Linked DNA regions of Homo sapiens. The protein of the gene in region 1 interacts with the protein of each later gene in a biochemical or structural test. Each region holds a gene or a part of one and is shown in the gene's direction. Other genes may lie near its edges. The genes, in order: MYB, ERC2, ZMYND11 and MAF.

Region 1 (7,661 bases):
AATGTATTTCTTGAATTCTCATACTACTTCCAGGTTTTTAAATAATGTCAGGGTAATAATGCTTTCTTTTTAATGAACAAGGCAAGAAAATGACCTCATTATGAGGGATAACTATGGAAGCTCATTTTGTCCCATTTTTCCCACTTAAGTAGTATATAACAGATTTTGTTCCTTTGGAAAGCAATACTTTTAATGATAAATCTTGCATTAAAATGATGTAGATCAAAAATATTAAAAATAGTTTTATTCTTGAGCTTCATAATCCAGGAGAAAGTTTATATAGTATTCTCTAGTGATGCTCCAAAGCATTTGCACCCTTGTGGTTCAGTATAAACTTAGAAATTTTAAGAGGTTGGTAAAAAAAGGCCTTTCCTCCCATATGGCCTGAGAGGATACACTGCTGATTCTTCTCAAAATTAACAGGGCTATTGAACTTCCTCTTTCTTTAGCATACATTCCCCCACCCCCATTGAAATAGAAAAAGGGAGACTTAAACGGTTTTTTTGAATTGAGAAACTGTTTTCCTGAGAATGGAAAGACTTTAGTAAAAATGCGTTGCCTTTTGAAAATATACTGGGGGTTAGGATCTTTCCCTTTGGGATCCCATTTTCCACTCTCGTCTCTGTCTGATTCAGAAAACAATTGGGGTGGCTTTCAAAGAGTAGGAGGTTTTTTGGTCTCAGAAGTTCTCACTAGTGCTTTGAGAGATAAAGAGTGAAGTATTCTTCATCAGCAGCATCTTATCATCCACCAGACTTCACCATGTCCCTCTCGTGGTGTGTAGGCCCTGCTGTGCCACATTCAAAGGAGTAATTTCCCCAAGGCAGCTGGAACTTTACATTGTGTTGGAGTCTTGTACCGCGACCGGTCAGAATAAACATGAAGCGTTATCGTATTGAAAATACTCCTTTACCAAGGAAATGGAATGGTTAAAAGATACTGATATTTCTAGAAAACGACATGCATTCCAGATTGTGTAACTAAGAGAAATCTAACTAGGCAATAGAGAAAGCCTGATCTCAGAGGGTGGAGAAGAAGGAAACAATTAAAAAGAGAAAACAACTAATAGGCCCAAGGGAAAGGTCTCTGTTAGAAACAGTTTTCTGTCAATTCACTTTAATCTGAATTGAAATTTTTGTTTGTGAAATTTGTGTGATATATTTCTGTGCAGAACTGATAATGCTATCAAGAACCACTGGAATTCTACAATGCGTCGGAAGGTCGAACAGGAAGGTTATCTGCAGGAGTCTTCAAAAGCCAGCCAGCCAGCAGTGGCCACAAGCTTCCAGAAGAACAGTCATTTGATGGGTTTTGCTCAGGCTCCGCCTACAGCTCAACTCCCTGCCACTGGCCAGCCCACTGTTAACAACGACTATTCCTATTACCACATTTCTGAAGCACAAAATGTAAGCCATTCCTGTGAATCTAGTTTAATGAGAGAGACGGTTAGTTTAGCTCCAGGTAATAATCATACTTTGCAGTTGTATACTTTTCAGAGAACTTTCCTGAGCATGATCATGGCCAGTCTTCACCTATGCCCTTTGAAGTAGATAGGGTGTAGGTATGGTGTGTTACCCCTGGTTTATGTCTCCAGAAACGAGGATGGTAAGCGCTTTGCCCAGGGTGACACAGCTCATAGAGATAGTGCTGACTAGAAAACGAGCTGTCCGATTCTAAATTGCTGCTTCAAATCTAATTTGAAGGCAACCTTTGAATGTAAATTTACTTAAGGTACTATTGAAGAATAGGGGAATGGAGTCGCATTTGTAGATGTAATGTTTTTCTCTTCCAAAACGAAAAGGGAAGGTAGTATTATGTTTAAAGAGGAGAGAGTTTGACACTGAAATTCAGTGGTTATGGTATGTTTCATTCTGGCAGTGATCAGGCAGACATGTCTTAATTTATTCACTCAGTAAGTGTTTACCTTCTTACTCTGAGTCAGGAGCAGAACTTTGTGACATTCATTTTCTGATGTCTCCTTTTAGTCTCCGTTGGATCAGTGTGATCCCTTCCTTATTTCTAGATATTTATATTTAGGGAAAGTGATAATCCATAATAGGTGGAAAAAGAAGAAGAAAGAGGAAAAAAATCGAGAAACTTTAATCTTAAGAATAACAATATTAAATGATAAAACTTACCCAAGAATAGAGAGCTCATATGCAAATTATATGCAAAACATGTTCATAAATAGTTTTTATTCTTCTCTGTCCATGGATTTGACTACAAACTTTACAGAAAGGTCTCAGATGAATAAATTATCATAAGAATTCCTGTGCTTTTTATTAAAACTCAAAATTATTCCAAGAAAAATATTTTTATTTACAAACAGCTGGTGCCATCAATTTTTCCCATAGAAACAATTTTGAAACATTCATTAATGTATTTTATAATATATTTTTTATTGTTTTTTTCATTGTGTTTTTCTCTAATTAAGGAACACTTCCCAAAATTTAAAGTGCTCATCAACACCTCCCAAGGATTTTTCACCATGTTCCTTTAGCTGTTTAGCCATTTTAAAGGCCTGGCTAAATTTCACATTAAAAGGTTTTAAAAATTTGTTTAGTGTATTTTATCAGTAAAGTGTTTTTTTTCTCTCAGTCCCAGAACGAAACCTCAGGAAGCCAAGTCCCCTGAAGCATATGTAGCCCTGAATGACGTGGCCTTTGTTTTGTCTTTTGCATCTAGGTCTCCAGTCATGTTCCATACCCTGTAGCGTTACATGTAAATATAGTCAATGTCCCTCAGCCAGCTGCCGCAGCCATTCAGGTAAGATCATTGATCATTCACTGTTCAAAGCACCACTTTTAAGAAATGCTTATTTCTTTCATCTAAACACATATTTTTACCTGAGCAACTAAAGTAAAAAGGAAAGGGAACATGGAGAGGAGAGCAGAGTCTTGGCCAGCAATCTATTAATCTTGTCTTCTAGAATGAGTTTGCTCTGGAATTTTCTGATTCTTTGATGTTGCAAGGTGAAATAACTCATCAGTCAGCATCCACTCTAGCCTGAGATTTCACATCACTCCCTTAAGTCTGAAATAACATTCACAAAGATTTCTGCAGGAGCCAAATTTGGTTGGTGGTGTTGTCACAGTGAGGCTCTTTGGGCTGTGCGGCACCTCATGACCATATTGGCTACACCCATTGTATTTGCAGCTTCCAATCAGACCTTTGTCTTTATTTCCCTTACTTTGTAATTTCAGAGACACTATAATGATGAAGACCCTGAGAAGGAAAAGCGAATAAAGGAATTAGAATTGCTCCTAATGTCAACCGAGAATGAGCTAAAAGGACAGCAGGTGCTACCAGTAAGACTGTCATCATGTGCTTGAATGAGGGGATAGCAGCTTTGCCTCAGTTTACCTAAGCGCTCTTCTCTTCTAAATATTACACTTAGCAAGGCTCCATATATCCATTCAGAATGTCTCAACACAAGAAGTTGCTTGTAGTAAAATGTAGTTGGTATCAGATTATATGCTGATTAAATTGGAAGCAGTCTTTTTGTAATTGCAATAAAAATGCAATATCCACTTATGATTGTTATCATCAATTTTTTTCTTCAGAAGGACTATAATCAGTTTAAAGACTAGCAAAGATAAAATGAATGAAAATCTGCATTTTCTACAGAGCTATGTATCTATATGGTACCATTTTGGTTTTTTTCTATTATTTTGTTAACCTATATTTTCATATTTTATAATTTCAGACATGATTTGATGCATGTTCAGTATATACATGTAAAAGGTTATATATAAAACCTCTTCATAAATAACATTAGCTGCTCTCTTTTATTTGCATGTGTGAAAGTTATGTGGGCCATTACTGAATTCTGACATCTTTAGCGACTGGGCAGCCAACTGGGATGGCTCCTTGTGCTTTGCAACATACATAGTTAACCAACAAAGACAATAAAAGAGAAGTGATGCCCAGTAGGTATTCCTAGGGGTAAATTTATTTTTTGTTAAATAATAAGATGTTTATGTGCACATGCTAGTTCGACCACTTTTTAACTTTAGTTAATGTTTTGCAATTTCTCCTGTTGTGTGGTCATACTGTAAGGAGACTTCTGTTAATTTGCTCTTCTGCTTTCCTAACCACGTTGATTTGGCAGTGCTTCACTGCATCAGTGCAATCTGTAGCATTAGAAAGGGATAGAAGCAACAAGAATATGTGTAGATCAAAGCAACTCTAACTCCTGAGTCCTCTAGCTTTTTTGTGGTTAGAATGCAAATAGGACAGTTCTTCAGTTCTTCACTCACAGCAAGCATTTATGGACCTTTGGCAAATTATATTAAAGTGGAATTTTAAGACAATATGATAATTATACTTCGAAATATAGACCTATGATTTGACATTTTTACAAAATGATAACAAGGTAATCATATAGGTACAACCTCTAGCACTATTAAAAACAGGGTCTTGCATTGATAAAAGGAAACATCTTGACAACTGTTTCATAGGCGTAAGTTTGGGATGATGCAACTACTCTTATCTTTCCTCCAACAGCATCTGATACCTTGTGCAACTTCATTGCTAAGTTCCTTCTCCCTTTCTTCTGTCCTCTCTTTATTTCTACACCCTTCCCCCTTCCTTAGACACAGAACCACACATGCAGCTACCCCGGGTGGCACAGCACCACCATTGCCGACCACACCAGACCTCATGGAGACAGTGCACCTGTTTCCTGTTTGGGAGAACACCACTCCACTCCATCTCTGCCAGCGGATCCTGGCTCCCTACCTGAAGAAAGCGCCTCGCCAGCAAGGTGCATGATCGTCCACCAGGGCACCATTCTGGATAATGTTAAGAACCTCTTAGAATTTGCAGAAACACTCCAATTTATAGATTCTGTAAGTAGAATTGTGAAGGGAAGTTAACGATTCTGGAAGATAAATTAGAAAACCCATTTCTTAAATCATTGCCATTTTCTATAGCCAAGCTGTTATTAGCATATATTAATGTAAAGGTAGAAGTATGATTTTCATCTTCATGAATATGTTTTTTCAAAGATCTGATTTCATAGCCTACCGAGAGAGACAAAAGTATTTATAAATACTTACAAAATAGGACTTTTGAAGGAAGAGTTTTTTTTCACATTTTCACACTTTTCCTTCAAAAGTCATATTTTTAAAAATAGTCAGATTGATGACTTATAAAGCAGAGCTTGGATTATGGGAACGGAATGGTGTTTGAGTTACTTTTAACTTTTTTTTTTCTTTGCTTACTTCATGGTGCTTCTCTAGAATTTTGTCTTGCTTTTGAACAGCACATTAATGATTTGGCTTACTCAGAGCTGAAAGCAATCTTTTAGTGTATTTGAAGTAATAATCAGCTCCTTGGTCATACCTGGCTCTTTCCACAAAATGGTGATTATTGATTACTGGTCCCATTGCTTCACTGAGATGAATCATCTTTCGTGAAACAAATTTGTATTCAGCACCTCCTCAGCGAACACTTGGTTCCTTTCCCAGTTGATTAAAAATCATTTATTGCACACTCATTGGTTAGGAGATGACCATTGCCGTAATATGCCATCTAGAAAAGGTCTTCATTTTGCTTTCCATTGCATGCAGATGTAGAGTGTCGGGAGGTCCCTGCAGCACATCAGAGGGCCAGCCTTGAGGCAGCCCACTAGACCCTGCTCTACTGCAGTATAATAGAGCAACTGCTCATCTTGAAGCTGTTGCTCAAGAAGCCAAACCAACGGGCCTAGTGTTTGCTTTGCGTTGAGCATCTCTCTCTCAGTGCTGTTTCAGGTGATGATGGCACACACTATCTCAAAGTTCTGTGCCTCCCACATTGTTTCAGGATTCTTCATCATGGTGTGATCTCAGCAGTTTTGAATTCTTTGAAGAAGCAGATTTTTCACCTAGCCAACATCACACAGGCAAAGCCCTACAGCTTCAGCAAAGAGAGGGCAATGGGACTAAACCTGCAGGAGAACCTAGCCCAAGGGTGAACAAACGTATGTTGAGTGAGAGTTCACTTGACCCACCCAAGGTCTTACCTCCTGCAAGGCACAGCACAATTCCACTGGTCATCCTTCGAAAAAAACGGGGCCAGGCCAGCCCCTTAGCCACTGGAGACTGTAGCTCCTTCATATTTGCTGACGTCAGCAGTTCAACTCCCAAGCGTTCCCCTGTCAAAAGCCTACCCTTCTCTCCCTCGCAGGTAGAACACAATTTCTGCACAGCTGTTACTCATTTTCAACAGACACCTGAGCCTTAATAATCTAGAAACTAATACTTCGGAACAAATGACTAATTACTGCTGCCTTTGCTGATTTCATTCTGTCGTTGAATCTAGCTGTTGCTAAGTTATACTGCCTCCCAAAGTTTAGGCTGTCTGCAGGCTAACTGTTGATTTTGGCATCATTCTCTCTCTTTTACTTTTGGGTGGTTTTGAAAGATAGTTGCATGAAACGTACTTTTATTTCCTTCAACACTAGAGTTTAACATTTCTGTCCCTTTCTTTTTCTCCCATCTGATCCCTCCCTTTAAAATTGTTAACATCATTTCTTCCTCGTTGTTCATTTATTCTTATGCGATTCACTGACCCAGGGGAGGAGGGAACCAAATTGTGTTTATATAACATTTGGGTTGCAACTAGAAAATTTAAAGCTAGAAAATTTAAAGGTTCCAATTCATCTTTAAATGGAAGAGTTTGGGAAGAGGATGAGAAACAAATGCTTAAGGAAAAGAACATATTTTTAATTTCAGTTTCTCAACATTGGCTCTTTTGAGTTGTGCCATACTATTTTACTAGTGCAGTTTTTGCCAAGGAATATTTTTATTTCATACAGCTTTTTTAAGGCATGAAAATCACAATTCTTATCAGAGATTTGTGTTCCTAAATTATTTAAATAATTAAATTAATAGATAATTTGGCACTTTAAAACATTTTTCCAATTGTATCTGTTGAATTTGTTTTAAGAACAGATTTAGGTATGATATAGGTATATACATTTGGGAAACACTGAATCAAACAAAGTTACAAGTAGGTTTCTTAGCTGGGCATAGTGGCATGGGCCTGTAGTCCTAGCTACTGGGGAAGCTAAGGCAAGAGGATTGCTTAAGCACAGGAGTTCAAGTTCAGCCTGGTGAACATAGCGAGATCCCATTTCTTTAAAAACTTTCTTTTTTTTAACTGCAGGCCTTCTCAGAGTTATTAATATGCCGTTGTGCCTTGTGAATTTCCAGGAGGAGATTATGATATGTTGTGTTTCCCAAATTTATTTTACCTTGGAATTGTTTAAGGAACACCTAGTTTTTTCCCAGAACTTTAGTGTTCTGAGAGACACAGTTTATTATTCAAGAATTTTCCATATAATGTAAACCTTCTGTAATACTAATTTTGGTTCATAGATTATTAAAGAGAAAAAACAAAGTATGAAAGGAAACTATTAATTATTAACTATTATTTTCCCCAAAATCACTAAAGCCTTTTAAATGTTAATAAAGAACACATCTCATTCTCTTTAATGACAAGTGTCATTTATTGAGAGTATTTTCTCACAGTTTTGCAAGTTTTTCAGCAATGACCCTAAATTTTATTTCTTGGAAACCACACCCAAATCCTGGGTGCTCAATTGAAATAAAACAATACCCTAGTCAATATAACATGCTTGTTAGCATCTTTATTATTTAATATAGTGGGTCAGG
Region 2 (6,318 bases), on another chromosome or scaffold:
GTGGCATGTGCCTGTAGTCCTAGCTCCTTGAGGGGCTGAGCTAGGAGGATTGCTTGATTCCAGGAGGTCGAGGCTGCTGTGAGCCATGATCACACCACTGCACTCCAGCCTGGGTGACACAGCAAGACCCTGCCTTAAAATAAAAGATATGTATATATATATATACATACATGCACACACGCTCTATTGGATGTACAAGTCTAGACAATTCATCAGAAGGGGACTCTGCAGTATATGTGAGACTTCCCACTCTATATCACATCCGAGAGGGTCAAGAAAGGCTTCTTGGGAAGACATGACATCCAAGCTGAAACTGAGGAATAAACAGGGATCGATCAGATAAAGAGCTGGTGTAAATCATGTTAGATAGAGAGACACGCTTGTGAGAGGGGGAGAAAATAAATTTTTAGGGCTGCAGAAGCAAGCTCAGCTTTGGTGGAACATAAAGAGTGGAATGTCAGCGTTAAGTACAGGACTGCAGAGAGAGAGGCCAGATGGGGCCTCGCCAGTATGGCCAGGAGTCCATCAGTCCTGCATTCTCAGGGCAACGGGATTATAAACAGGGTTGTAAACAGGAGTTGTAAACTGTAAACGGGAATGCACTATGGACTGGATGTCACCATTGAAATGGCGCTGTTGTTGGCTGCTGCGTTGAAAGCGCAGAGTTGGGTGCTGTAAGAGGAAGCTGGAGAAGGGTAAGGGCCGCTGTGACTGTCCAGGTGAGGGAGGACTGGCCAGGGATCATCTCACAGTGGGTGGCAGCCCAGATTGGCTCATTGCTGGAAGCCAGGATTCGTTTTTTATTTTTATTTTTAAAGCATATGCTTCTTTGCCCCCCCAGAAGGGATCATCTGCATTTCTAAATGCTGGCGGTGTCACTTGAGGTTTCCTTGTTGTTTTTCTTTTTTTCCTTAAAGCCATTTAGGCCTCCTGGTGAATGGATTGTTCGATTGAAAGAATGGCTACACTTTTTGAGAATTCTCTTGTCTCCAGCATAAACCTTACCCAAAAGCAGTTTGCTGCAATTGTGGGGCATTGTATTCTGCCTTGTGACCTGCTGCCCAGCTGGAAATCTTTCTCACAACTGAATAAATGACTGTTCTTTGCTACTTTATCTTGGAAAAACATCAAGGACATCAGACATTCACTGTAATTATTTTTCATCTGTAAAACAAAACAAAACAAAAGACTGGTGCATTTTAATACTACTTAGGGTTTCTCTTTACCTTTTAATCATGTGGCCTTTTAATATATTGGTCAGCCCTTTAAAAGGATGATTAAGAAATGCTTAATGCACAAAAGAATTAGAGCTATGCACAGCTCATGAAACAGAAAGCGTGCTCTGACTTACAATTTTCATACAAAGTTTGCAGAGAGTTTATGTGCCAGAATGAGTAATATGATCTGCTCTAGGAACTCCCTAACTTTCTGGCTCTGCAAAAGTCATTTTTTTGCCCCGATTCAAGTTTCTTAACCAGAAGGGTTACACCAAAGTCCTCAGAGTATGAATTAGCAGAGTTCATCCAAGCCACATATTTCATTTGCACTACTTAACGATGGCTTGAAATAGCTGGCTACCTGTGCAGACACTGGGATCTTTGGCATTCTTGTTAGTCGGCGTGACTCGAAAAATGCTGCATATCAACCACCAAATGAGACAGCTCAGGATATATATACAAGGTGACTTGTGTGTACACGAGTGTGTGTGTGTATGTTTGATCTTTCCTCTCCCTGCCATATTTCCCAGATAGCTGAGCTCATGTGGCTGGAAACCCAGAAGCACTCACAGGCCATATGTGAATGATAATGGCACAGGCACACAAAGTTGAGCATCAGCAGGGAAGAAAGTCCTCATCTGAAGCAGTAGTGTGGGAGGGATCCCCCTTCTCACTCATTGCACTATTGCTTCCCAGGATGCAGTTGTATCCACACTCTGGGCCCCTCACTGGGACAGTGAGAAACCTTGGGGTGCTTCTGGATACCTGTTCCCCAGGGCAGTAAATAGACAAATGGATGACTGTCACATTTATGTTTGGTTGGTTTTTAAGTGCATGCTAAGTTCTCTGATATCTTAACCACCTTTAATTCTTTAATCTCCATAAAATCAAGTTAAAAAATAATTTTAAAAACATCATCATTGTAGAAAAGCGTAGAGAGAATAAAAGTTGACATATAGTCCGATTATGTGGAAATAATCACTGGAACATTTTGGCATATTTCCCTTCAATTTCCTTTTTTGTATATCAAGAGACATTTATACATATACGTGACATATTTTGAAAGAGGCCTCTTCTCAGATGCACTTGCAGGACGTAGTTTATCTTTCTGTTTCCTTTGTCCTTCCTCTGTGTTTCTTCCCCTTACCCCCTCCCCACTCCCACCCAACCCCAACCATTGAGAGTGGTGGAGAGGCTGTTGTAGGGGTGAAGAGTGGGAAACGTTCTGCCAGGATTATCTCAGATATTGTTGCCAGTTTCTTCCCCTGCTAAATTATGTGCTTTCTTGTTGCAGCTATTAGAAGGGCTGAATAAAGGGAACATGCAGCTCTGCAGCAATATTCTGATAATGTATTGCAGTGCGGCTCACATCACTGTCCACCACCACCTGGAGCGGCTCATCAGAACTGAAGGGGAGTTTTCACTTACCTTATTGAGCGTGATTCTGTTCTACTTGATATTTCCTTCACCACCTCATGTCATTTCTCATGGATTTGGTTATGATGGAAAGGAAGAATGCAGAGGAGGAGAAAAGTGACAGATCCTCCATTTTTGTTGGGATGCGGGCATTTTGAATGTGATCATCTTTGCTGAATGTCATTATTTGATAACATTTTGTTTATGTTACTTAAACATCATTGGATAAATTTGAACTCCATGGGATTTTATCTGTGGATTCAGCTTCTGTTGGACAACTAGCCTCATCTCCAGTATCCTGCTGGTTCACTCTAATTGGTCATTCCTAATGCATTAGATTATCAAAAAGTATAAATTCGCTGTGAGTGAGTGGTGTTGGCAGTGTTTGTATACCATGATGCATGGAGTGTTTGACGAAGAAACAAAAAACACCAAAAATTGCGAGCCTTTACCCTCCTCTATTTCTTTAATCTGTTGTTTGAAGAACCGCATTTTGAGGGTGTAACCAGTAGTCACCTCTGGGCCAGGTTGGAAAAGAAATCAATTTTTTAAACCACTAATGCTTGCCAAGAAATCGCCTTATGAGAACATGGTGTGTGTCTCTGACAATGCGTGGCACATCTAAATTGATCATTCATAATTTTATCTACCCAGTCATGTACTGGAGAGTGGCAAAAGTCTGAGGCACCTGCATATCTCTAGTCCCTGTGTTCTGCACATCCCCACGGTGGGGACGCCACCAAGCCTCAGACTCTTACCATCCCGGTGCATGCAGGTCTCCATGAAGAAGCTGGGACTCATTCACATTTCAAGATCCAAATGCTGTGCAAACAGTGTAAGCTTAGATTTTCTGTAAATGAAGGGTCATTTCTCTTTTTTTTTTTTTTTAAAGAAAATGTGTCTGCAACATGGATTCCAAAGCATTTTCAGCATCAAACATGAAAACATTGATGAATGAGGAACAATCACAAAAGCTGTGTCTCTGTATATAGCTCTACACAACATGTATGTGGATACAGTCATTATTTAAAGCACATGCCAGGGAAAAAGACCAAATTTTGAGGTCTTTTACATACAGTGATATGGTACTAAGGAGAATTAAACTCCTACTGCTTCCTCTGAATATTAAGAAACAATTTAAATTGTTATAACTTCATAAAACTCATGACTGAGTCTGGCAAACATGTGCAACTCTTGTATTGCTCCATTTTCTTGTCAATGGAAGAAACCCTTCCACGTGTATGCAAGTGGGAGATGAAAACCTGCATTTTTAAAGGACAAACAGTGAATTTAAGCATGAGTGGCCTTAATAAATATAGTTGTCTTTCTTTGCTGCTGTGGAAAGGATTCTAAACAGATGTCCCTGAAGTCTTGCATTGAATTTAGTCATTATTATTACTTTTTAAAATGTTGGTGCAATTAACTCTGGACCTCTCTTGTGAGCCATAGAGATATTTAAAAGACAAACACCTTATTTGTCGGGGAAGATGAAACCGTCCCTGAGTTGCACCATTCTTTCTTGGTGCATTCGCGGTTAAGATACTCAAGCAGGTTTCTTGCTTCTGGCTTTGTTCTTGTCATCAGTAAGTATAACAAACTATGTAATGCTTATGTGTTGCATAAACAATCCAAATGCATTCATGTTTTAAAAGTTTGTCCTTTAACTATCAGAGGGATCTAGGTCTTGGTTAGAGAAGTAAGCAGAGTTCTTTGCAAGCTTATTTAGCACATTTTGACACAATGTTGCACTGAAAACCCAGGCCACAAATGTGTCCCAGTGAACAGTTTGGATGTCCTCAAAGAAGTGGTTCTCACTGCCTCCTACAACCAGGTCTTGACCTGAACTCTGCAACTGAATACTTGAAGTAGGAAGTAGGAAATCCAGTAGGGAAAATAGGGTCCTTGAAACAGAAAAAAAAAACCAACCCATGTATAGCTAGCTATTTCTATGTATGTGCCAATTTTGTCACAGCTCTTGTTTGGAGGGATCATTTTCTGCCCAACTTTCATTGGTTAAAATATTACTGATCTTACCTTTATGAGGTCGTATAATTTAGTCCCTTAAAAATTAAATTCTCTCTAACATAACAACCTTTCCCATTTCGTGTAATATTCTCTGATGTTTGGGGGTTACCAAAAATATCCCTTTTTCACATATTAAGAATAGTCTCTGGGTTTACAACAAACACTGTGATGTTGGGAAGCTATTTCCTTTGCGCAAACTTTAACAGGTTTTCTTCTAATCATAACATAGTTGAAAAAAGAAGTTTGGGCTAACATTTAGGAGAAGTTGGTCTTACTTTGTGCAAAAGCAGGCTTGTGCTTTATACCCCATTTGATTTCGATGTACAGTCTCAATTTTGTATTTAATGATTTTTGTGTATCCAGTATGCACGTTAACAGCGTGTCAACTTTCATTTGAAAGTGGGTTTCAATTTACTTTTTAAACAGTGTTTATGACGAGACCTCAGATGTGTTGACGTAAGCTCTATCTGCAATGTTTTTGTGTAGAGTGGCGATTGAATGCTGCCCAGGGTCAGTGTATCTAATTCCCCGAGACCCTCGTTTGATAGTGCTTCTTGTAATATTTCTTCAAGTGAGTGGCATGTGGGTTGTGATATTGACCATGTGATTATGGACATCGATATGAAAAATAAATAAATAAAACTAAGGAACCCTGGAAACTACCAGTGGGCATGTATTAGCCAGTCATTGTAACCTCGTGTCTAGTAGAACAATGTACAAGGTATGTACAGTTCATAAATTTGTTGTCATGTGTATGAGAAGTACTTTGTGCTGATCGCCTTATTTATATTCATCAAATAAACCTTGTTTCTTTCTGAAGTGAGTTCATTCTATCTCTAATAAATGCTCCAATTGTGCAGTTTCTAACATTTTGAGGGTCATGGATCCCCATTTGAAGAACCCTATGGACTTAAGTAAAAAGGGAAGTCATTGGCTCATTTAACTGGAAAGGCAAAGACGTAAGTCTTCCTTTATGTACAACTGGATCTAGAGGTTCAAATTAGAAAATCAGAAGTTCACATTAGGAAATTTAAGTTACTGTCATTGTCTCCCTTCTTCCTTTCTTCTTTCCTTTCTCTTTTTACCTTTCTCTTTCTCACTCTCTCAATCTCTTCCTCTGTCTCTCCTGATCCCTCCCTCTCTTCCTCCTTCTCATCTTTTGTCTCTTCCCTTTTTCTTTCTCCCTTTTCTTGTCTCTCCCTCCCTCTCCCCTTCTTCTCCCTTTCCCCTCCTTCTTCTCTCCCTGTTTCCCTCTGCACTTTCTATTGGGTTGGCTTTGGACTCTGGTAAGCTCTCTCCACTTGGTTGTAAAGATGACTTCCAACAGCTTTGAGTACTTTTGATTTTTAGAGGAGAGACTAACTCTCTGAGCTACATCTACATCTGTCCCCTAAAGGGACACTTGGTGATTCTTTTTTGGATCATGCAAACAATTACCTTTTTCAAGGCCATGTGGTTGACAGCCTCACTGGTGGGGGTGGGGGGAGCAGTTTCCAACAAGGGAAAATGGATTCTATTCTAGAAGAGAGGGACAAGAAAGCTAGGCAGGCAAAAATACTAGCTAGCCCTGCCACCACTTGGATACACACACAATCGTCCATGCAAGGGCTCACCAGCCTTCACAGCGTGTCTGTGGATCAGTGAAGAACCTCATTGCTAG
Region 3 (5,344 bases), on another chromosome or scaffold:
TCAGTACAAGTGAAAGCGTGCTTTCCGAATAACTTTTCCATGTTCTTCTTTAAGAAATTTCACTGCTGCTCGTAAGGTTTTGAGGAGCTGACAAGCTCTGACTGGTGAGGGATGGCAGTCGGCAAAACTAGTCTGAGAGCTGCAGCCAACATTTTGTGTTCCAGGTGCTTCTCCCCCCAGCTTCTCAACTCAGTTTTAGTTGGGTATGACAAGAATGACTGAATTTGTGTGATCAACTCTCACAATATCATTAGATGGGAATTAAGGTGTGCTGAAGATAACAGAAGCACAACACCCAAAGACGCCAGGTGCAGTGGCTCATGCCCGTAGTCCCAGTGCTTTGGGAGGCCAAGGTGGAAGGATTGGTTGAGCCCAGGAGTGCAAGGTTGCAGAGAGGTGTCATTGCACCACTGCACTCCAGCCTGGGCGATGGAGCAAGACCCTGTCTCTTAAAAAATTCTTATGAGTAGAAATCTCTTAAGTTTACTAAAGAATCAAGAAAATGGGAAGAAGAGGCTATAATTATAATACTGTCTTTTGTAGCACTTTACCATTTGTGAAACAGCTAAAGTGGGTATTTTTGTACTCTTCTTTAAGATGAAGAATTTGAGGCTTATGAGATTAAATAGAATGATTAAAAACCTAGTTGGCAGAGCTGAGCTTTTTGTGCTCATCACATTCTAGTAAAAGGGTTAGAATTCTTTCTTCTCGGCCAGGCTCGGTGCTCACACCTGTAATTCCAGCACTTGGGAAGGCCGAGGTGGGCAGATCACTTGAGACCAGCCTGGGCAACATGGTGAAACCCCATCTCTACAAAAAATACAAAAATTAGCCGGGCGTGGTGGTGTGTGCCTGAAACCCCAGCTACTTGAGAGGCTCAGGCAGAAGAATCTCTTGAACCCAGGAGGCAGAGATCAAAATGAGCTGAGATTGTGCCACTGCACTCCAGCCTGGGCGACAGAGCGAGACTCACTCTCAAAGAATCAAGAATTCTTTCTTCCCAATTACATCTTACATTGTTGTAAGAAATAGAGTAGTATTATAGGACAGAAAGCATGTAGGTATGCCAGATGCCGAATAATGGATGTCACGAGAAACACAGATAGATGTATCCATTAAATATATCCCCAGAAAGGGAGAAATTGAAAACGAAATAATAGGGTATTTGGGAGAAGGGATGGTGGTGCTGTGTAAAGTCTGAAAGATGAGGAAACTAAGAAGTTAAATAACTTGAAGCCACATGACCAGTGGGTGGCACAGACCCCAGATGTGAATCCCGACACGCCTCATCCAAGCCGTTTCCAAAACTGACTCTGCACCTAATGGGGATTTTTCTGAAGGTGCACTTGCTGACATAATGGATAATAATGCACACAATACACAGGAAGGAAATTAGAATGTTTAGGTATCAAATGTAGGCTAGTCTCCCTGGGTTCTTCCTCCAGGGCTCTCAACAGCCGTCAGATCTGCATGTGTCTATCTACAGAACTTTCATATTTATACTGACCTGTTGTCAAGTGTTTGTTTACATCCAGAAGGTCTCTCATCTTCCTTGCCTCACTGTGGGTGTCTGTTCATGGTACTACTGTTAGTTCACCAACCCAGCTTGGAACTTTAGCTTTACTTTTTTCACTCTTCTCTTCTCCCATGACCAAAGAGTTCAACCATGGTATATGGACCCTTGCACTAGAACATTCTTTGGGGGAGGTGTACATGGTGGGATGTTTAACAGCATCCCAGGCCTCTGTCTGCCAGTAGTACCTTCTGCCCTTAAGTTGTGACAGTCAAAAATATCTCCAGACATTGCCAAATAAGATGAAGACTGAGACTTGGCCACTAGATTTGAAGTTGTAAGTGACCCTGCTAGCAGCATATTAGTGGCATGGTATGAGTAAAGACTGCAGCGTATGTTAACGACGAGAGAAGAATTTGAAATAGGGAGTTTAGGCAAGTCTTTCAAGGAGCTTGTGGGGAGCAGAGAAATGCAAGTGGTAGCTGGAAAGGGATGTGAAGTCAAGAGCATTTTAAGAAAAGAAACGGGAATGACTCTCACAGAGATGGAAAAAACGGGAGGTGTCAGGTACCACCTGACAGCAGCTTGAGTTTGCTGACAACCAGGCATGAGCTGCAGTCATCCCCAGGGCTCCCTTTCCATCTGCTGTGCATAAAACGTATTCAGATTCCACAAAAGGTTGAGCCAGAAAGATCTTTTAAAAGCACCACCTCAAGAGTTTGCCATTTTAACCAGTCGCTTACACATCCACACCCAAGTCTAAAGACTGCCCCGATTTCTTACCTGCAGTGCTACAACTGTGAGGAGGAGGCCATGTACCACTGCTGCTGGAACACATCCTACTGCTCCATCAAGTGCCAGCAGGAGCACTGGCACGCGGAGCACAAGCGCACCTGCCGCCGGAAAAGATGAAGCTGGCCCTTCCCGGAGTCACCCCGATGATTACTCTTTTCAGACACAGCGGTTTTTGTTTCCAAGAAGCCAAAATTGTTTAGAATTTGCTTCCCATTTTGCACCAGCCTTTAAACACTTTTCGTGAAGAAATTTTGCACAGTAGTTTAAATCTTTTGTTAATGCTCCTCCGAAGTTTTTCAGGGGGTAAAAGTAACATCAGTGGAGGGTATTATTTTAAATAAATTTTAATTGAGAATTTGTTGCATTTTCAGCAAATTTTAAAACATTTTTAGGTTTTACAGAGATTTTAACCTTTAAACAACAGATCTTTAAAAAACAGGTGAATACAAGTGAGTTTAACAAAGAAACATTTAGAATAGATCTGAATGTAAGAACTACAGAACTGTTTCAGAAATAAAACATACTACCTTGATGTGACATTTTTTTCTTAACCTTGTTGAGCTGGTTTTGTTCAGCTTAATTTACTGTTCAAAGGCATTATCTGTTGGTCACACCAGTGGGTATATGATTGAATTTAGGGAACAGGGTTGACACAGCAGGGCTAGTCCTGCATATTTTTTCTTAAATATTTCCCAATTGTGTTTTTCATTATTTCTTTTCAATATATAACTTTTATAACAAATTATTAGCTTTGATCTTGTAGTTTAAAATTGCAGGGAACTGGGGTAATCTTTTACTGAGCTGGATCTTAGAGAAAATGAATATTTAAATTTTAAAGTTTGCACATTTCATCTTTGTCCTAACATGAGTGCTTGTAACAAAATAAACAACAAAAACAAAGCCAAAAACTACCTTTATCCATATGTGAAATTATAGATGAGGCATACGAATTTGTTTAATGCTTCCCTTCCCTTCCCACATATCATCTCACTGCCTATTATCTGGTGTCACCTCATGTATCGTAAGTTAATACTAAAAGAAGAGAAAGCACTTAAGTTTCACAGAAGCCGTTATGTTTGTAGTAATGGGTCATTGCCTACTAATGAACTCCATCACTGTACACAGAATGAAGAATAATGCATGTTAATTTTCTTGTATTAAAGATGCCGTGATTTGTAAAAAGTCTGTATTTTGCGGAATGTCTGGATTAAGAAGCATTACCAATAGGAATGGATCGATAGTTGAATAATGATTTTTTATACATAGATATATAAAATACAGCCAGGAAAACTTAAATTACTTTTCTTTTAAAATATCTCACAATTTATGTGGTATTTTTAAAGACTGATCTTAGACCAAGTCAAATTCCCATTTATCATTTAGTTATTTTTTGAGGTTAGAGAATAATTTGTACATATTTATTTAGACCTTTGATATTTATTAAAGCAATTACTCACAATGGAAGTGAAAGAATCAGGAGAAAAGCCTTTTAAAAAGTATTCTCCAGGTTTGTCAGGGTCACTCTAAAGATAAAAATGTAACTAAGTCTTCTGTGAAATATCATCCATCTAATCTTGATGCTGTTGCAGATGGTGGTGACACAAGTTAATTGACAAACTACTGCCAAATGGTGCACAATATTTTGTAAAAAGTACCCAGTAGCCCCATTTCATACAATGTACCTAAATTATGCAGTAACTTGGCATCATCGTTCCCTCCTTGTTGCTGTGTAATTAGTCAGTGTTGCCACAGTGTGTGGCGCTGATGGAGATGTCAGAACCGAGAACACTTAACCTTCTTTGATTGTTTTTCAAGTTTTAAGACTTCGATCCACCCCTATGAGAGCAAGTAATTGTGGAAATATTTTTGGTGTAAAATCATTCCAGAGTATGTAATATTTAACTGATAGCTGCATGAAAGTGAGATTCGTGTTACTTTGGCTTTTCTGTCTCTGTTGACACGGTTGCACATTTCCAAGTTACTACAGCGTGAAAACTGTGTGTTTAAAAAAAAACAAAATTAAAAAAAGAGATTGTGGCCTGGTTTTGTAAAAGTTTTAGGTAAAATTACAATTGATTGTTTTAGGAATCATTATTAAAAATTTTCTGCAAATCATAAAGCTATATCGAGGTGTTGAGCTTAGCCACTATGCACATTGTAATTATTCATTGTGGCTGTCCAGTTCTATGATGCATTCTGGCATTTTGTAAGCTGCTCTGACTAGCAATATATAGATTCATTTAATGTGTTAACATTGGTTAATAAATGTATTTAAAAAAAACTAGCTTTAGTAATTTGTTTATTTAGTGTAGTCCCCTATACCCAACCAAATACTACCGTCGCTAAATGTTGATCACATACTGTGGGTCACTCTTTAGTGACTGCTTAACTTTATATAAAATCAGTGTGTTAAACATCATTTGTTCACTTAAACGTATAAATTGAATTTACTTTCACCAGATCTCAAAAAGACCATACATGATATAATAAGGAGAGGATGATTATTATATCAGCTGCATATCAATTATTGCAAATCAGCCTGAAAAACAGATACACAACTCAGAATGGAATAGATTCTTAATTGGAGGCCAGCTGAGGCTAACCCTCTGCTGTTTTCATCTACTTCTTGGTATGGTAGTTGTGGGTAGTTGACCAGCCCCAGGTCTTAGTGCCAACATTAACCCAGCCTTAGTCGGTACTCTGGTTTTCATCATTCATGCCATCATTCATCATTCATGTGATAGACGTATCACAACTGGGATCAGATGGTTTAGGTCTGAATATTAAAGTCCCAGTTCCTGTAGGATTGTAAAGTTTCCAACAGTAGTAGTAGTATCATTCTATTCACCCTCATTTTGTCTTTGTTCTTCTAGATATATTTTCCTAAGCAACAGGCTTACTGGTCCTCAAAAATGAGGTGTCGGCCAGGCGTGGTGGCTCATGCCTGTAATCCCAGCACTTTGGGAGACCAAGGTGGGTGGATCACCTGAAGTCAGGAGTTCGAGACCAGCCTGGCCAACATGGTGAAACCCTGTC
Region 4 (5,061 bases), on another chromosome or scaffold:
TTCATGTGAAACGTTGATCACCTTTGAAGCCTGCATCATTCACATATTTTTTCTTCTTCTTCCCCTTCAGTTCATGAACTGGTGTTCATTTTCTGTGTGTGTGTGTGTTTTATTTTGTTTGGATTTTTTTTTTTAATTTTACTTTTAGAGCTTGCTGTGTTGCCCACCTTTTTTCCAACCTCCACCCTCACTCCTTCTCAACCCATCTCTTCCGAGATGAAAGAAAAAAAAAAGCAAAGTTTTTTTTTCTTCTCCTGAGTTCTTCATGTGAGATTGAGCTTGCAAAGGAAAAAAAAATGTGAAATGTTATAGACTTGCAGCGTGCCGAGTTCCATCGGGTTTTTTTTTTAGCATTGTTATGCTAAAATAGAGAAAAAAATCCTCATGAACCTTCCACAATCAAGCCTGCATCAACCTTCTGGGTGTGACTTGTGAGTTTTGGCCTTGTGATGCCAAATCTGAGAGTTTAGTCTGCCATTAAAAAAACTCATTCTCATCTCATGCATTATTATGCTTGCTACTTTGTCTTAGCAACAATGAACTATAACTGTTTCAAAGACTTTATGGAAAAGAGACATTATATTAATAAAAAAAAAAAGCCTGCATGCTGGACATGTATGGTATAATTATTTTTTCCTTTTTTTTTCCTTTTGGCTTGGAAATGGACGTTCGAAGACTTATAGCATGGCATTCATACTTTTGTTTTATTGCCTCATGACTTTTTTGAGTTTAGAACAAAACAGTGCAACCGTAGAGCCTTCTTCCCATGAAATTTTGCATCTGCTCCAAAACTGCTTTGAGTTACTCAGAACTTCAACCTCCCAATGCACTGAAGGCATTCCTTGTCAAAGATACCAGAATGGGTTACACATTTAACCTGGCAAACATTGAAGAACTCTTAATGTTTTCTTTTTAATAAGAATGACGCCCCACTTTGGGGACTAAAATTGTGCTATTGCCGAGAAGCAGTCTAAAATTTATTTTTTAAAAAGAGAAACTGCCCCATTATTTTTGGTTTGTTTTATTTTTATTTTATATTTTTTGGCTTTTGGTCATTGTCAAATGTGGAATGCTCTGGGTTTCTAGTATATAATTTAATTCTAGTTTTTATAATCTGTTAGCCCAGTTAAAATGTATGCTACAGATAAAGGAATGTTATAGATAAATTTGAAAGAGTTAGGTCTGTTTAGCTGTAGATTTTTTAAACGATTGATGCACTAAATTGTTTACTATTGTGATGTTAAGGGGGGTAGAGTTTGCAAGGGGACTGTTTAAAAAAAGTAGCTTATACAGCATGTGCTTGCAACTTAAATATAAGTTGGGTATGTGTAGTCTTTGCTATACCACTGACTGTATTGAAAACCAAAGTATTAAGAGGGGAAACGCCCCTGTTTATATCTGTAGGGGTATTTTACATTCAAAAATGTATGTTTTTTTTTCTTTTCAAAATTAAAGTATTTGGGACTGAATTGCACTAAGATATAACCTGCAAGCATATAATACAAAAAAAAATTGCAAAACTGTTTAGAACGCTAATAAAATTTATGCAGTTATAAAAATGGCATTACTGCACAGTTTTAAGATGATGCAGATTTTTTTACAGTTGTATTGTGGTGCAGAACTGGATTTTCTGTAACTTAAAAAAAAATCCACAGTTTTAAAGGCAATAATCAGTAAATGTTATTTTCAGGGACTGACATCCTGTCTTTAAAAAGAAATGAAAAGTAAATCTTACCACAATAAATATAAAAAAATCTTGTCAGTTACTTTTCTTTTACATATTTTGCTGTGCAAAATTGTTTTATATCTTGAGTTACTAACTAACCACGCGTGTTGTTCCTATGTGCTTTTCTTTCATTTTCAATTCTGGTTATATCAAGAAAAGAATAATCTACAATAATAAACGGCATTTTTTTTTGATTCTGTACTCAGTTTCTTAGTGTACAGTTTAACTGGGCCCAACAACCTCGTTAAAAGTGTAAAATGCATCCTTTTCTCCAGTGGAAGGATTCCTGGAGGAATAGGGAGACAGTAATTCAGGGTGAAATTATAGGCTGTTTTTTGAAGTGAGGAGGCTGGCCCCATATACTGATTAGCAATATTTAATATAGATGTAAATTATGACCTCATTTTTTTCTCCCCAAAGTTTTCAGTTTTCAAATGAGTTGAGCCATAATTGCCCTTGGTAGGAAAAACAAAACAAAACAGTGGAACTAGGCTTCCTGAGCATGGCCCTACACTTCTGATCAGGAGCAAAGCCATCCATAGACAGAGGAGCCGGACAAATATGGCGCATCAGAGGTGGCTTGCGCACATATGCATTGAACGGTAAAGAGAAACAGCGCTTGCCTTTTCACTAAAGTTGACTATTTTTCCTTCTTCTCTTACACACCGAGATTTTCTTGTTAGCAAGGCCTGACAAGATTTAACATAAACATGACAAATCATAGTTGTTTGTTTTGTTTTGCTTTTCTCTTTAACACTGAAGATCATTTGTCTTAAATAGGAAAAAGAAAATCCACTCCTTACTTCCATATTTCCAAGTACATATCTGGTTTAAACTATGTTATCAAATCATATTTCACCGTGAATATTCAGTGGAGAACTTCTCTACCTGGATGAGCTAGTAATGATTTCAGATCATGCTATCCCCAGAAATAAAAGCAAAAAATAATACCTGTGTGGAATATAGGCTGTGCTTTGATTTACTGGTATTTACCCCAAAATAGGCTGTGTATGGGGGCTGACTTAAAGATCCCTTGGAAAGACTCAAAACTACCTTCACTAGTAGGACTCCTAAGCGCTGACCTATTTTTAAATGACACAAATTCATGAAACTAATGTTACAAATTCATGCAGTTTGCACTCTTAGTCATCTTCCCCTAGCACACCAATAGAATGTTAGACAAAGCCAGCACTGTTTTGAAAATACAGCCAAACACGATGACTTTTGTTTTGTTTTCTGCCGTTCTTAAAAGAAAAAAAGATAATATTGCAACTCTGACTGAAAGACTTATTTTTAAGAAAACAGGTTGTGTTTGGTGCTGCTAAGTTCTGGCCAGTTTATCATCTGGCCTTCCTGCCTATTTTTTACAAAACACGAAGACAGTGTGTAACCTCGACATTTTGACCTTCCTTTATGTGCTAGTTTAGACAGGCTCCTGAATCCACACTTAATTTTGCTTAACAAAAGTCTTAATAGTAAACCTCCCCTCATGAGCTTGAAGTCAAGTGTTCTTGACTTCAGATATTTCTTTCCTTTTTTTTTTTTTTTCCTCATCACAACTAAGAGATACACAAACTCTGAAGAAGCAGAAATGGAGAGAATGCTTTTAACAAAAAAGCATCTGATGAAAGATTTTAGGCAAACATTCTCAAAATAAGAGTGATATTCTGGATGTAGTTATTGCAGTTATCTCATGACAAATGAGGCCTGGATTGGAAGGAAAATATAGTTGTGTAGAATTAAGCATTTTGATAGGAATCTACAAGGTAGTTGAATATAATAAGCAGGTTTGGGCCCCCAAACTTTAGAAAATCAAATGCAAAGGTGCTGGCAAAAATGAGGTTTGAGTGGCTGGCTGTAAGAGAAGGTTAACTCCTAGTAAAAGGCATTTTTAGAAATAACAATTACTGAAAACTTTGAAGTATAGTGGGAGTAGCAAACAAATACATGTTTTTTTTTTCTTACAAAGAACTCCTAAATCCTGAGTAAGTGCCATTCATTACAATAAGTCTCTAAATTTAAAAAAAAAAAAATCATATGAGGAAATCTAGCTTTCCCCTTTACGCTGCGTTTGATCTTTGTCTAAATAGTGTTAAAATTCCTTTCATTCCAATTACAGAACTGAGCCCACTCGCAAGTTGGAGCCATCAGTGGGATACGCCACATTTTGGAAGCCCCAGCATCGTGTACTTACCAGTGTGTTCACAAAATGAAATTTGTGTGAGAGCTGTACATTAAAAAAAATCATCATTATTATTATTATTTGCAGTCATGGAGAACCACCTACCCCTGACTTCTGTTTAGTCTCCTTTTTAAATAAAAATTACTGTGTTAGAGAAGAAGGCTATTAAATGTAGTAGTTAACTATGCCTCTTGTCTGGGGGTTTCATAGAGACCGGTAGGAAAGCGCACTCCTGCTTTTCGATTTATGGTGTGTGCAAGTAAACAGGTGCATTGCTTTCAACCTGCCATACTAGTTTTAAAAATTCACTGAAATTACAAAGATACATATATATGCATATATATAATGGAAAGTTTCCCGGAATGCAACAATTAGCATTTTAAAATCATATATAGGCATGCACATTCTAAATAGTACTTTTTCATGCTTCATTGTTTCTCTGGCAGATAATTTTACTAAGAAGAAAAATAGATATTCGACTCCCCTTCCCTAAACAAATCCACGGGCAGAGGCTCCAGCGGAGCCGAGCCCCCTGGTTTTCTCGTAGGCCCTAGACGGTGTTGCATTTATCAGTGATGTCAAACGTGCTCATTTGTCAGACATAGCTGTAAATGAAAACAATGTGTGGCAAAATACAAAGTTAGTTAAATACACACCCTCTGTGTGATTTTTTGCTCCCTTTTCTTTTTTGCTCCTACTCAAAAAAAAAAAAATCACCTCCTTTACATTTCCCTGGCTTCTTGCATGTTTCCCTTTTCAAAAACCATGTAATAATTTTTTACAATGTATCTGACACATTAATATATTGACATCAAATAGGCAGACATTCTACTTTTGCCTGGCAAATAAATCTGCTACGGAGACATCATTTCCTCACTGTCTCAAAGCCATAACTACCTGGGAGTCTTTCAACACAGACCCCTCCGATGGGAAATGCTGTTTATTACTGAATGCAGGATGCTCACGCTCTGATCTTTTCTCCCTTGTGCCTTTACCCCAGTCATTTTTACTTAGCAACACCAATTCTAGATACTTCTGTTCTGAAGTAGAACCACCCCCTTGCCACACTGCCAGTTTTCCTGCTAAAAGCAGTGGACAGAAGACAGATCATGGTCACCCTCACAAACATGGCACACAGCTGTCTCGGTAGCTG

Evidence for each region.
Region 2: the proteins of MYB (region 1) and ERC2 form a complex in vitro, tested with the Homo sapiens proteins (one study listed by BioGRID).
Region 3: the proteins of MYB (region 1) and ZMYND11 form a complex in vitro, tested with the Homo sapiens proteins (one study listed by BioGRID).
Region 4: the proteins of MYB (region 1) and MAF form a complex in vitro, tested with the Homo sapiens proteins (one study listed by BioGRID).

The regions. Positions count from the first base shown.
Region 1 is NC_000006.12:135,191,153-135,198,813, forward strand, and holds part of MYB (transcriptional activator Myb), read left to right. Parts: intron 1-1,171; coding exon 1,172-1,406; intron 1,407-2,685; coding exon 2,686-2,766; intron 2,767-3,203; coding exon 3,204-3,308; intron 3,309-3,807; exon of another isoform or gene 3,808-3,929; intron 3,930-4,595; coding exon 4,596-4,850; intron 4,851-5,573; exon of another isoform or gene 5,574-5,756; intron 5,757-5,808; coding exon 5,809-6,171; intron 6,172-7,661. UniProt on the Homo sapiens protein: Transcriptional activator; DNA-binding protein that specifically recognize the sequence 5'-YAAC[GT]G-3'. Plays an important role in the control of proliferation and differentiation of hematopoietic progenitor cells.
Region 2 is NC_000003.12:55,507,470-55,513,787, reverse strand, and holds the end of ERC2 (ERC protein 2), read left to right. Parts: intron 1-2,511; 3' UTR 2,512-5,477; downstream 5,478-6,318. UniProt on the Homo sapiens protein: Thought to be involved in the organization of the cytomatrix at the nerve terminals active zone (CAZ) which regulates neurotransmitter release. Seems to act together with BSN. May recruit liprin-alpha proteins to the CAZ.
Region 3 is NC_000010.11:250,046-255,389, forward strand, and holds the end of ZMYND11 (zinc finger MYND domain-containing protein 11), read left to right. Parts: intron 1-2,302; coding exon 2,303-2,425; 3' UTR 2,426-4,592; downstream 4,593-5,344. UniProt on the Homo sapiens protein: Chromatin reader that specifically recognizes and binds histone H3.3 trimethylated at 'Lys-36' (H3.3K36me3) and regulates RNA polymerase II elongation. Does not bind other histone H3 subtypes (H3.1 or H3.2).
Region 4 is NC_000016.10:79,593,338-79,598,398, reverse strand, and holds the end of MAF (transcription factor Maf), read left to right. Parts: exon of another isoform or gene 1-3,845; coding exon 3,846-3,939; 3' UTR 3,940-4,561; downstream 4,562-5,061.